Regions from separate parts of the Homo sapiens genome. Here all the other regions are reported to be linked to region 1. Evidence: microRNA targets listed by miRTarBase, many of them from high-throughput screens and not tested one by one. Region 1 holds a microRNA gene; each other region holds the end of a gene's coding sequence.
What was found. The annotated mature microRNA hsa-miR-6787-3p reads UCUCAGCUGCUGCCCUCUCCAG and lies in region 1 at 1,454-1,475, shown strand. An mRNA with a match to its seed (bases 2 to 7 or 8) in the 3' UTR can be bound and repressed. Matches are read on the target gene's strand: a 7mer-m8 pairs with bases 2 to 8, a 7mer-A1 pairs with bases 2 to 7 and ends in A, and an 8mer does both.

Region 2: miRTarBase lists POLD4 as a target of hsa-miR-6787-3p. Seed matches in the 3' UTR shown: 7mer-m8 at 1,992-1,998 and 8mer at 1,453-1,460.
Region 3: miRTarBase lists RAPGEF1 as a target of hsa-miR-6787-3p. Seed matches in the 3' UTR shown: 8mer at 1,152-1,159 and 7mer-m8 at 1,249-1,255.

Annotation. Positions count from the first base shown.
Region 1 is chr17:82,235,254-82,238,587 of GRCh38, forward strand. MIR6787 (microRNA 6787) reads left to right here and starts at 1,415; the gene lies at 1,415-1,475. SLC16A3 (solute carrier family 16 member 3) reads left to right here. Exons shown (of 5, transcript NM_004207.4): 2 at 730-978; 3 at 1,476-1,619; 4 at 1,885-2,640. The coding sequence starts at 756. RefSeq lists enhancers at 992-1,181, 2,006-2,777.
Region 2 is chr11:67,349,392-67,352,725 of GRCh38, forward strand. POLD4 (DNA polymerase delta 4, accessory subunit) reads right to left here. Exons shown (of 4, transcript NM_021173.5): 3 at 3,300-3,334; 4 at 1,381-2,628. The coding sequence ends at 2,604. All of the region lies in intron 2 of LOC100130987 (a long non-coding RNA gene), which reads left to right. Among named protein-coding and RNA genes, the nearest start is that of POLD4, 2.5 kb to the right of the region's middle. RefSeq lists an enhancer at 2,835-3,334.
Region 3 is chr9:131,576,896-131,579,895 of GRCh38, reverse strand. It overlaps RAPGEF1 (Rap guanine nucleotide exchange factor 1), which reads left to right. Exons shown (of 27, transcript NM_001377935.1): 27 at 249-3,000. The coding sequence ends at 399. Among named protein-coding and RNA genes, the nearest start is that of PRRT1B, 33 kb to the right of the region's middle. RefSeq lists enhancers at 468-547, 748-877, 908-957.

The sequences.
Region 1 (3,334 bases):
GTCACTGAGCAAGAGGGCCGGTGGGAGGCAAGGGGGCATCCAGGGACAAGGGGCCAGCTCTGCCCCCACTTCCCCACCCCACCCACTCTAATACTGCAGCCCCTGTGCTTCCAACTGCCCCCTCCAGCCTGGGGCCCAGCCCCTCACCGCCAGAGACTGCCCGCCTCCTCTTGGGCAAGCTCCTGGTGGGCTCCACTGAAGCCAAAGTGGGCCCTTGGGGGCAGGAGAGCCAGAGCAAGGCACGCTCCACCTAGATTTAGACCGGGAGAGACCTGGAGGATGCCAACCCCAGAGGTCCTGGGGCGAGCTCAGTGCTGGGGACCGGAGGTGCCGTCTGCTGCCAGAATCATGGTGTGCGTGGTCCCTGCCCAGCACGGGTCAGCCAGAGCGAGCCAGGGCAGAAATGACGGCCAGGTCGATGTTCCTGTCGGGGGCTGCTTGTCCCAGGAGGTAATCTGAGTCCTGGCCGAGCCCAAAAAAGCCACTGCCCTTTAGAGCCAGCTGTGAGGGTGCAGGAGGCAGTGCAGAGGGAGTGGGACCCACAGCTGCTAGCCTCCCTCCAAACCCTCCTGCCTCCACCAGACACCAGGTCAGGGGGCCACAAGTGTGGGTGCCGGGCAGCTGCCCCTCAGCTGAGCTGCCGGGCCACCCAGCTCGTGTCCCTCCCCTGCCAGGCTGCAGCTGGGATGGTCACCCGGGCAGCCTGAGTCAGCCTGCTTTCTCTCTCAGGTGAGGCGGAACCAACCCTCCTGGCCATGGGAGGGGCCGTGGTGGACGAGGGCCCCACAGGCGTCAAGGCCCCTGACGGCGGCTGGGGCTGGGCCGTGCTCTTCGGCTGTTTCGTCATCACTGGCTTCTCCTACGCCTTCCCCAAGGCCGTCAGTGTCTTCTTCAAGGAGCTCATACAGGAGTTTGGGATCGGCTACAGCGACACAGCCTGGATCTCCTCCATCCTGCTGGCCATGCTCTACGGGACAGGTGAGGGTGGCCTCACACCGGGCCCCCTGTCCGGGGCTCTGCTGGCGGATCCTGCTGGGCGCGTGTAGCTGGGCTCAGCAACAGGGCCTTCCGCCTGCTCCCCAGGGAACCCTGGAGGGAAGCCCTTGGGGCCAGGATCCTGCTGGGCAGCAACATGCTCTCCACGGGGCCAACCCAGGCAGGGCGCGAAGTCCATCCTGGCCCCTGTCCAAACGGGTCGGCTGTATTTATAGACCGTCTCAGAGGACAGGCTCCTGAGAGCCGTTCCTGAAAAGGTGGCTGTTCCTGAGCTGCAGGGACCCAAGGGGCCCAGCAGGCGGCGCTCACGTGTCATCATGGCCTGCGCTCGGGGAGCCTGCCCACGGGGTGCCCCTGGTGCCCCGCGGGGGGAGGGGTGGTGTGGGAAGGGGAGGCCGGCTCCAGGCTGTGAGCTCAGTCGGCTGGCGGGGGTAGAGCTGGCTGCAGGCCCGGCCCCTCTCAGCTGCTGCCCTCTCCAGGTCCGCTCTGCAGTGTGTGCGTGAACCGCTTTGGCTGCCGGCCCGTCATGCTTGTGGGGGGTCTCTTTGCGTCGCTGGGCATGGTGGCTGCGTCCTTTTGCCGGAGCATCATCCAGGTCTACCTCACCACTGGGGTCATCACGGGTGAGTGGGGCCGGCCGGTGGGCCGCACGTGCCAGGAGGGGCAGGGGCCGTGCACTTCTGCTCCTGGGTCCAGGCCTCTGGAGGACAGCAGGGCGGGTGGCTGCGGGGTGTCCCGGCCCCACCTCGTTGTCCCCCTCTCGAGTGGGTGGGTGGCAGGGGCTCTGCACCCTGGGAGCCTGAGCCTGTGGGAACCTGGGGGCAGAGATGAGGGTCTCGGGCTTTGGGGCAGCCTTGGGGGGCTCTCACCACATTCCCTTTCCTCCAGGGTTGGGTTTGGCACTCAACTTCCAGCCCTCGCTCATCATGCTGAACCGCTACTTCAGCAAGCGGCGCCCCATGGCCAACGGGCTGGCGGCAGCAGGTAGCCCTGTCTTCCTGTGTGCCCTGAGCCCGCTGGGGCAGCTGCTGCAGGACCGCTACGGCTGGCGGGGCGGCTTCCTCATCCTGGGCGGCCTGCTGCTCAACTGCTGCGTGTGTGCCGCACTCATGAGGCCCCTGGTGGTCACGGCCCAGCCGGGCTCGGGGCCGCCGCGACCCTCCCGGCGCCTGCTAGACCTGAGCGTCTTCCGGGACCGCGGCTTTGTGCTTTACGCCGTGGCCGCCTCGGTCATGGTGCTGGGGCTCTTCGTCCCGCCCGTGTTCGTGGTGAGCTACGCCAAGGACCTGGGCGTGCCCGACACCAAGGCCGCCTTCCTGCTCACCATCCTGGGCTTCATTGACATCTTCGCGCGGCCGGCCGCGGGCTTCGTGGCGGGGCTTGGGAAGGTGCGGCCCTACTCCGTCTACCTCTTCAGCTTCTCCATGTTCTTCAACGGCCTCGCGGACCTGGCGGGTTCTACGGCGGGCGACTACGGCGGCCTCGTGGTCTTCTGCATCTTCTTTGGCATCTCCTACGGCATGGTGGGGGCCCTGCAGTTCGAGGTGCTCATGGCCATCGTGGGCACCCACAAGTTCTCCAGTGCCATTGGCCTGGTGCTGCTGATGGAGGCGGTGGCCGTGCTCGTCGGGCCCCCTTCGGGAGGTGAGCGCTGCGCCCCCAGGCAGTTCCCCACACCTGCCCTTCCCGTCAGACGCCCGCTTTGCGAGGGGGGGGACGCGCACCCCTCGGCAGCCACCCGCAGTGTGGGACTCAGAGCTGGAGGGGGTGCACTGTGCTGGACCAACCCTGATTCTGCTGGGGCTAGCGGGTCTCCATTAGGAGTGGGGTGCTCCGTCCGGCACAGTGTGTCCAGACAGGCAGGGTGGCTAGGGGCTGGGCCCGGGGGGGGGCAGCTCCTCCAGGCTCTGCCTGGGCACCACGCGGCAGCTCCAGGCAACCCAACAGCCGGCTTTTGCATTTTGGGGCCTCTCCTTTTTGAAGGATGACTGAGCTAACACGTGAGGGAAATTAAGTTCTGACTGGAGCAGCCTTGCCCAGGCTCCGCCTGCCTGGCGAGGGGGTCCTGGGCTTGGGGAGGGCTCATGTCTTGGAGTCCGCGGTGGCCAGGGCACAGGGCTGGTACTGAACACAGTAGGGCTTCTGGGGCTGCCGACTGGAAGCCTCAGGGGGACTCCGTGGGGACCAGCGTGACTCCTGCCACCAACCGAAACCCAAACTCCACAAAGCCATTGCTATTTTTAGCCTCTTAAGTCTTGGTTCCCCTGAGGAGGAGGGAGGATGCCCCCAGCTGAAACACATGGAGGGGAGAGAACACCTCCCAGCCCCACAAGCTCAG
Region 2 (3,334 bases), not on the chromosome of region 1:
ACGCTGGTCCAGATCACCCTCAGCTCTCATGAGGCCAACTTCAGTAGCCTCCTGAGTGGTTTTGCTACCTCTGTTTTCCCCAGCTCCACAATCTTGTTTTCCACCAACAGAGTAATGTTTTCGAAACATAAGCTTGACTCTGTCATTTATTGGCTTCAAGCCCTCCAGTATCCTCCCCTCTCACTCAGAATCAAATCCAGTTTCTTATCATGGCCCTAGGGACCAGCCCGCTGCCTGTCTGCCCTCAATTCCCACTACCCTTCCTCACTCCCTGGCCCCCAGCCTCACTGGCCTCCTCAGTGCCTTTCCTGGAGCAGGCTGGAAACACTCCTTCCTCAGGAAGCTTCTCCTTGTTGCTCCTTCTGCCTGGAACCCTCAGATGCAGACCTTGCTCCCTTCCTTCCTTCAAGTCTCTGCTCAAATGCCACCTTAGCAGAGGGCCTTCCCTGACCAGTCTCTCTAACATAGCGCCCCTGGCATCCTTGGACCCTTTCTGATCCCAACTCTGATTTTGCTTACTACTGACTGCTACCTGTCATAATTAACTTACGTGTTTGTTTTTGCCCATCTCCTGACCATTAGTAATACCCCAAGGGGACCTTTGGTGCCTGGCACATAGTGAGTGCTTAGCAGCTGGGCAGGAGGTATGGCATAGTCTGGAAGAGGTTAATGCAAGTGGCCCCTGGTCACTGCACTGCCTCTTGCCTGCTGTGTGCTTTTGGGCAACTTTACTTAACCTTTCTTAGTTTCAGTTCCCCCTCAGTAAAACCTACCTGGAAGGTTTTTTAGGAGGATTCGAGGTAATACATTTAAAGTACCTGAGACATGATCAGTGCTCAGACGGGGGCTACACAGGCCACTTAGCTGCCCTCTAGGCCTGTTTCCAAGAACTTACTAGTGCTGCCTCCATCTACCCCCAGGATAGAGGGCTGCCACAGTAGATGAAGGTAACACTATAGAAGCGGTTACTGACTCTATTCTCCATGTCATACCCTGACCCTGGGTCCCCTGGGCATTGTTTCTGGCTCCAGCCAGTTCTCCTCCATCCCCCAGCACCATCAGTTTCTTTTTTCTTTCTTTTTTTTTTTTTTTTTTTTGAGATGGAGTCTTGCTCAGTCGCCCAGGCTGGAGTGCAGTGGCGCGATCTCGGCTCACTGCAAGCTCCGCCTCCCGGGTTCACGCCATTCTCCTGCCTCAGCCTCCCAAGTAGCTGGGACTACAGGTGCCCGCCACCAGGCCTGGCTAAGTTTTTTTGTATTTTTAGTAGAGACGGGGTTTCACTATGTTAGCCAGGATGGTCTCGATCTCCTGACCTCCTGATCCACCTCCCTCGGCCTCCCAAAGTGCTGGGATTACGGGCGTGAGCCACTGCGCCCAGCCTTTATTTTGTATTTTTTTATTTTTTGAGACGGGGTCTCTCTCTGTCACCCAGGCTGGAGTGCAGTGATGCGGTCTCAGCTCACTGCCAGCTCTGCCTCCCGGGTTCACGCCATTCTCCTGCCTCAGCCTCCTGAGTAGCTGGGACTACACCTGGCTAATTTTTTGTATTTTTAGTAGAGATGGGGTTTCACCATGTTAGCCAGGATGGTCTCGATCTCTTGACCTCGTGATCCGCCCTCCTTGGCCTCCCAAAGTGCTGGGATTACAGGTGTGAGCCACCGCGCCCAGCCATCAGTTTCTTACCAAAGCCCCTCAGATGATGGTCATGTCTGAGCAGGTCCTGCAAGTTGAGACCCTCGCCAGCCCTGCTTTGGATCAAGGTGGCCCCCGATGTGGGAAGCCAGAGGTGCTTGCTGGGAATGTATAGATATGTTTGGACTTCATGAGCTATGGACCCCAGGGGTCCTTCTCTGGCAAAGCACCCATGTTTGTGAGGTGGGCACCGCTTAGCAAGGCAGGTGGCTGGCTAGTCAGGTAGGTTTTCCCTGGCTGCTCCAGAAGGTGAGTCATGAGTAGTTTCCCTGTGGGCCACCAGGGGGCACCAGAGGTCGCTCAGCTCTTCCGAGGACTTGATCCGTCTCAAGATGACTGTCTCCTCCCTCTTCGGCCTAGGACTTTCTTGAAGGAAAAGAGCTGTAGTGGTGCCTCTCTCATCTCCTAACTTGCTAGGGACTGCCAGTCAAAGCAGGGCCACAGTAAAGGACTGAAGGTCAGGATTCCAGGCTCAATATTCTTTATTGATAAGCATTAGTGAACCCCTTGCCCTGGGAGCTCAGCCAGTCCTGCTCTCAGATTCCTGGCCTTAGGTGGGAGAGCATCTTTTCCTCATGGATCAACTGTCCATGTCTGACTGTGCCTAACTTGCCAGATCATGGGTCAGGGAGACAGGCAGCAGGTATTGGAAGGTGATGGCCAGGTCCTTTTCCCCAGTGACCACTCTCCATCTAGAAGCACTCTGCTTCAGCTGCGCAGGCTCTTCCGGGGACTCTGGGAGCCTGCTGGTTAGATGGAGGAGTTGAGCCTCTGACACCTCCAGGTTCTGCCTGCCAAGGGTTCCTCCGCAGCCGGGCTGAGCTGAGCAGGAGCAATGGGCTCTCGCTTCTGTCCTGAGGTTCTTGGGTGGTGAGCAAGAGAGCTAAGGGCAGGAGGTCTTACGTGGTGCCTCATAGGGGATAGAGATGCCAGAGACTGTGGAAGATGGGGTGGGAGGGAGGGATACCCCAGAGAGAGAGAGAGAGAAACAGAGAATCAGTTGTTGAGTCCCTGGATCTGATTTCACCAGCTTATTCTTGGCCATGCCCATAGTCCTTGGGAAACCCCTCAGTTCTAAATAGATAGTTCCTTGGGTCCTGGGTGTACCTTTGCCCCCCACTAGCTTGTAGAGGTAAGAATTATTGGCCGGGTGTGGTGGCTCACGCCTGTAATCCCAGCACTTTGGGAGGCTGAGGTGGGTGGGATCACGAGGTCAGGAGATCAAGACCATCCTGGCTAACACGGTGAAACCCTGTCTCTACTAAAAATAGAAAAAATTAGCCGGGCGTGTTGGCGGGCGCCTGTAGTCCCAGCTACTTGGGAGGCTGAGACAGGAGAATGGCGTGAACCCGAGAGGCGGAGTTTGCAGTGAGCCGAGATCGCGCCACTGCACTCCAGCCTGGGCAACAGAGCAAGACTCTGTCTCAAAAAAAAAGAATTATTATAGTGGCGTGTCCTCCTGAGCCAGGCACCTCATAGAATCTTCTTGCCTGTTCAGCAAGGCCTTCCAACCCTCCATCCATTTCTCCCTCAGGTCAGGACAGCAGGGTGACAGTGCCTGGAGAAGGCCCTGGCTCCCCTGAAAGCCCTCCCGGCCTGTCTCTGACCTGCACTGGAAGCGGGGGTCTCCGGGGTGGGTCTT
Region 3 (3,000 bases), not on the chromosome of region 1:
GGGATCACCTGGGGCCCCCTCCCTGTGAGCAGCCCAGCCTCAGGGCCCTGTTTGTGCTCCATGTGCTGGTGGCACCGTCTCTGAGCACTGGTGTCCCCTCTGTCACATTGGTCAACGGTAGCCCCTGCAGCATCCGTTTGCTGCGAGGCTGTGGGGATGGTCCCCGCGGCACCTTCCAGGAGGGTGGCGCCATCGGGCCATCCAGCCCACACAGGTGCTCACTGACTGCTCCCCATCCCCTGCACCAGGCACTATGACATGCGGAGGAACGACGACATTATAAACTTCTTCAATGACTTCAGTGACCACCTGGCTGAGGAGGCCCTATGGGAACTGTCTCTGAAAATTAAACCCAGGAACATAACAAGGAGAAAAACAGACCGGGAAGAGAAGACCTAGGAGCAGACGCCGGGATCCAGGAGAATGCTCGAGGGGCGCAGAGGGCAGCTCCCAGACCGGAGAGGACCTTGGACCTGTTAGGCGCATGGCAGGAGTCCCGGCCTCGGAGCCATGAGGCTGGCCAGCCCTCAGCGGGGCCGGGCGGGAGCTGGAGCCTGCCAGCCGCTTCCTGCCTCCTTCCTCTGTGGGAGCAGACCCGTGGGCCTCAGGGCAGCCAGCAGGCAGGTCTTGTTGCCAATTTACAAACCGGTGGTTTTCTGGTTTGGTTTTGTTTTCTGCTTTTACTTCCATCTCTCCCCTCTTGACCTTCCACCCACTCCCCTCCAGGGAGAGAGCAGCAGAGACCTCATCAGCAGACCAAGGAAGTGGTGGGTGCTCCCCCTCCCTAAGCTCCAGGGTCCCTGAATCTTCTGAAATCTCAAATGAGTGGAGGCCTCCTGGGGTGGCCTGTCCTGCAGGGGCCCTGGAATGGGGGCAAGCAGCTGGGTGGGCAGAATGCAGAGTAGACTCGGGGGAGGATCCTTTCACTTTCCGCTTCCCCTTCTGATGCATGGAGGATGGTGTGAGCTTTTCAGCAGGCCCGGAAAGGTACGCAGGTGACGCCTTAGCAGCCCCGCAGCTGGTGCTCTGCCCCGCGGTACTGGCGCCATCAGGGCCTCCCTTGCCCGCCTGAGAGCAGCAGCAGTCTCTGTCATCCCGTCGCCCCTTACCCCCCACCCCAGGCCACTGGGCCCCTCCCACACCACCTGGGGAGCTGAGAAGAGGAGGCTGGAGTAAGGGAGGACTTGATCATCCAAGAAATACTTTTTATTGCTGGGAGTCTTCTGAACCTCACCAAACTGAGGCCAGAGCTGAGCTCCTGGGGGAGTTAATTCAGAGGGGAGAGGCCAGCACCTCCCTCCTCCATCGCTCGCTGTGTGCCTTAAACTCCATCTCATGTCCCTCCCCATCCCCTGGCTTTCCCTCCCTCCTTGCCCCATCCTGGGCCAGCCAGCAGGGCTCCTCCTCTGGCTCTTCAGACCTTTCAGCCAGTGCTGTCAGTGCCCCTGGGAGGGAAGGGCATCCCTGAGGCACCCGAATGGTCCCTCAGGGTGCAGGGAGGCAGAAGCCTGGCCACAGAGGAGCCTCCTAAGGCAGCAGCTGCAGCAAGCGCACCCTCTCCCCACTCTCCCCACGCCAGAGCGGCTTCCAGAGCAGATGCTGTTTCCATCCTCCTCGTCAAAACCATTCTCGCTGCTGAGCTTGACAATCTGGGCAAGGCTTGTGGGGCGCTTGACAAACAGAATCTGCCCTGTGCCGCCTGGTTCCGTGGCCTCCAGCATGAGCCTGCAGGCAGGGCGCTGCGGGAACCCAGTTGTGCTGCCCCAGCCCATGCCTCCGGGTCTGCTGTGCATGAATGAGTGCTCACTTGTCCCGGGTTTAGGACGTGGTCAAGTGAACAGCAGGGTCTAACTGTGCTTACTTAGCCCAGTTCAAACAGAACAAAGGAAAAATATAGAAAGCAACATCTGTTGATCATTTAGGTTTTTTTTTAAACCACCATGTCACTTTGAGTCCTTCATGGGTTTTTGAACAGCATTTATCAAGAAGAAAATGTGGGCTTTTTCCCCTCTCCCGTGTTTTGTTTGTCCTGTAGATAGAGGGAGGAAAGCCGTGCAGTGGCAGGCGGGACCCCCTCTGGTGGCGGGACCCCCTCTTGCGGTGGTCTTGCGGGGCCAGCCGGGACCTGTCACTTTATTATTTAAGGAGTGTGTGTGTAGAGTCGCTGGCTTATTAACAGTATTGTGTGTGGGTTGGGTTTTTAGTTTGTTCCTTCTTTTTGAAGTCCCTTCATTTCAATCCTTGACTCTCTCTCCCCTTCCCTTGCCCAGCTCTGTTGAATGCTGCTGTGCGCGTGTGAGGGCCGCTCTGCACACAGGGCCCTTGGGTTGTGTGAACTGAAATTCTCCCTGTATTTGTGAGACTCGCAGGAGTCCCCATCTGTAGCACAGGCAATGCCAGTGCCATGCTGCAGCCTCAGAAACCAGGCCTCTCACTCCAGCAGCAGGCAGAACCGTGTCTGTGGTCGGGTGCTGTCCACAGCTCTGTCTGCCTTGTTCTTGGGCTTGAGCTGGATAGAGGTGGGGTCTCTTCACCTTCCCTGAATTCAGAACAGACCCTGTGCCTGGCCCCAGTGTGCCCAGGCAATTCCCCAGGCCCTCACTGGGAGCCCTTGGTGTTCTGAGCAGCAGGGCCCAGGCAGCACATGAGCAGTGCCCAGGGGCTCCCTGCGTGAGGACGGCAAGGTGCGATGTATGTCTAACTTATTGATGGCAGGCAGCCCCCTGTGCCCCCTAAGCCTGGCCCTGGTTATTGCTGAGCTCTGTGCTCAGTGCTGCGGCCTGGCCGTGGCTCGTCTGTTCCTTTGGGGGGCCCGGGCGGGTTGTGGGAATCAGTCTTCACAGACAGACGTGAGCCAGGCGGAGGACTCGTTCCTTGCAGAGGTCAGTCCTCACCTGCAGGTGTCGGGGTGTGGGGGGGCAAGGAGGGGCAGGCACACACCATGTCTGACCTGAACCCGATTCTGGGGAGCATCTTCCCGCTCCGGCCCCACGACCTCCA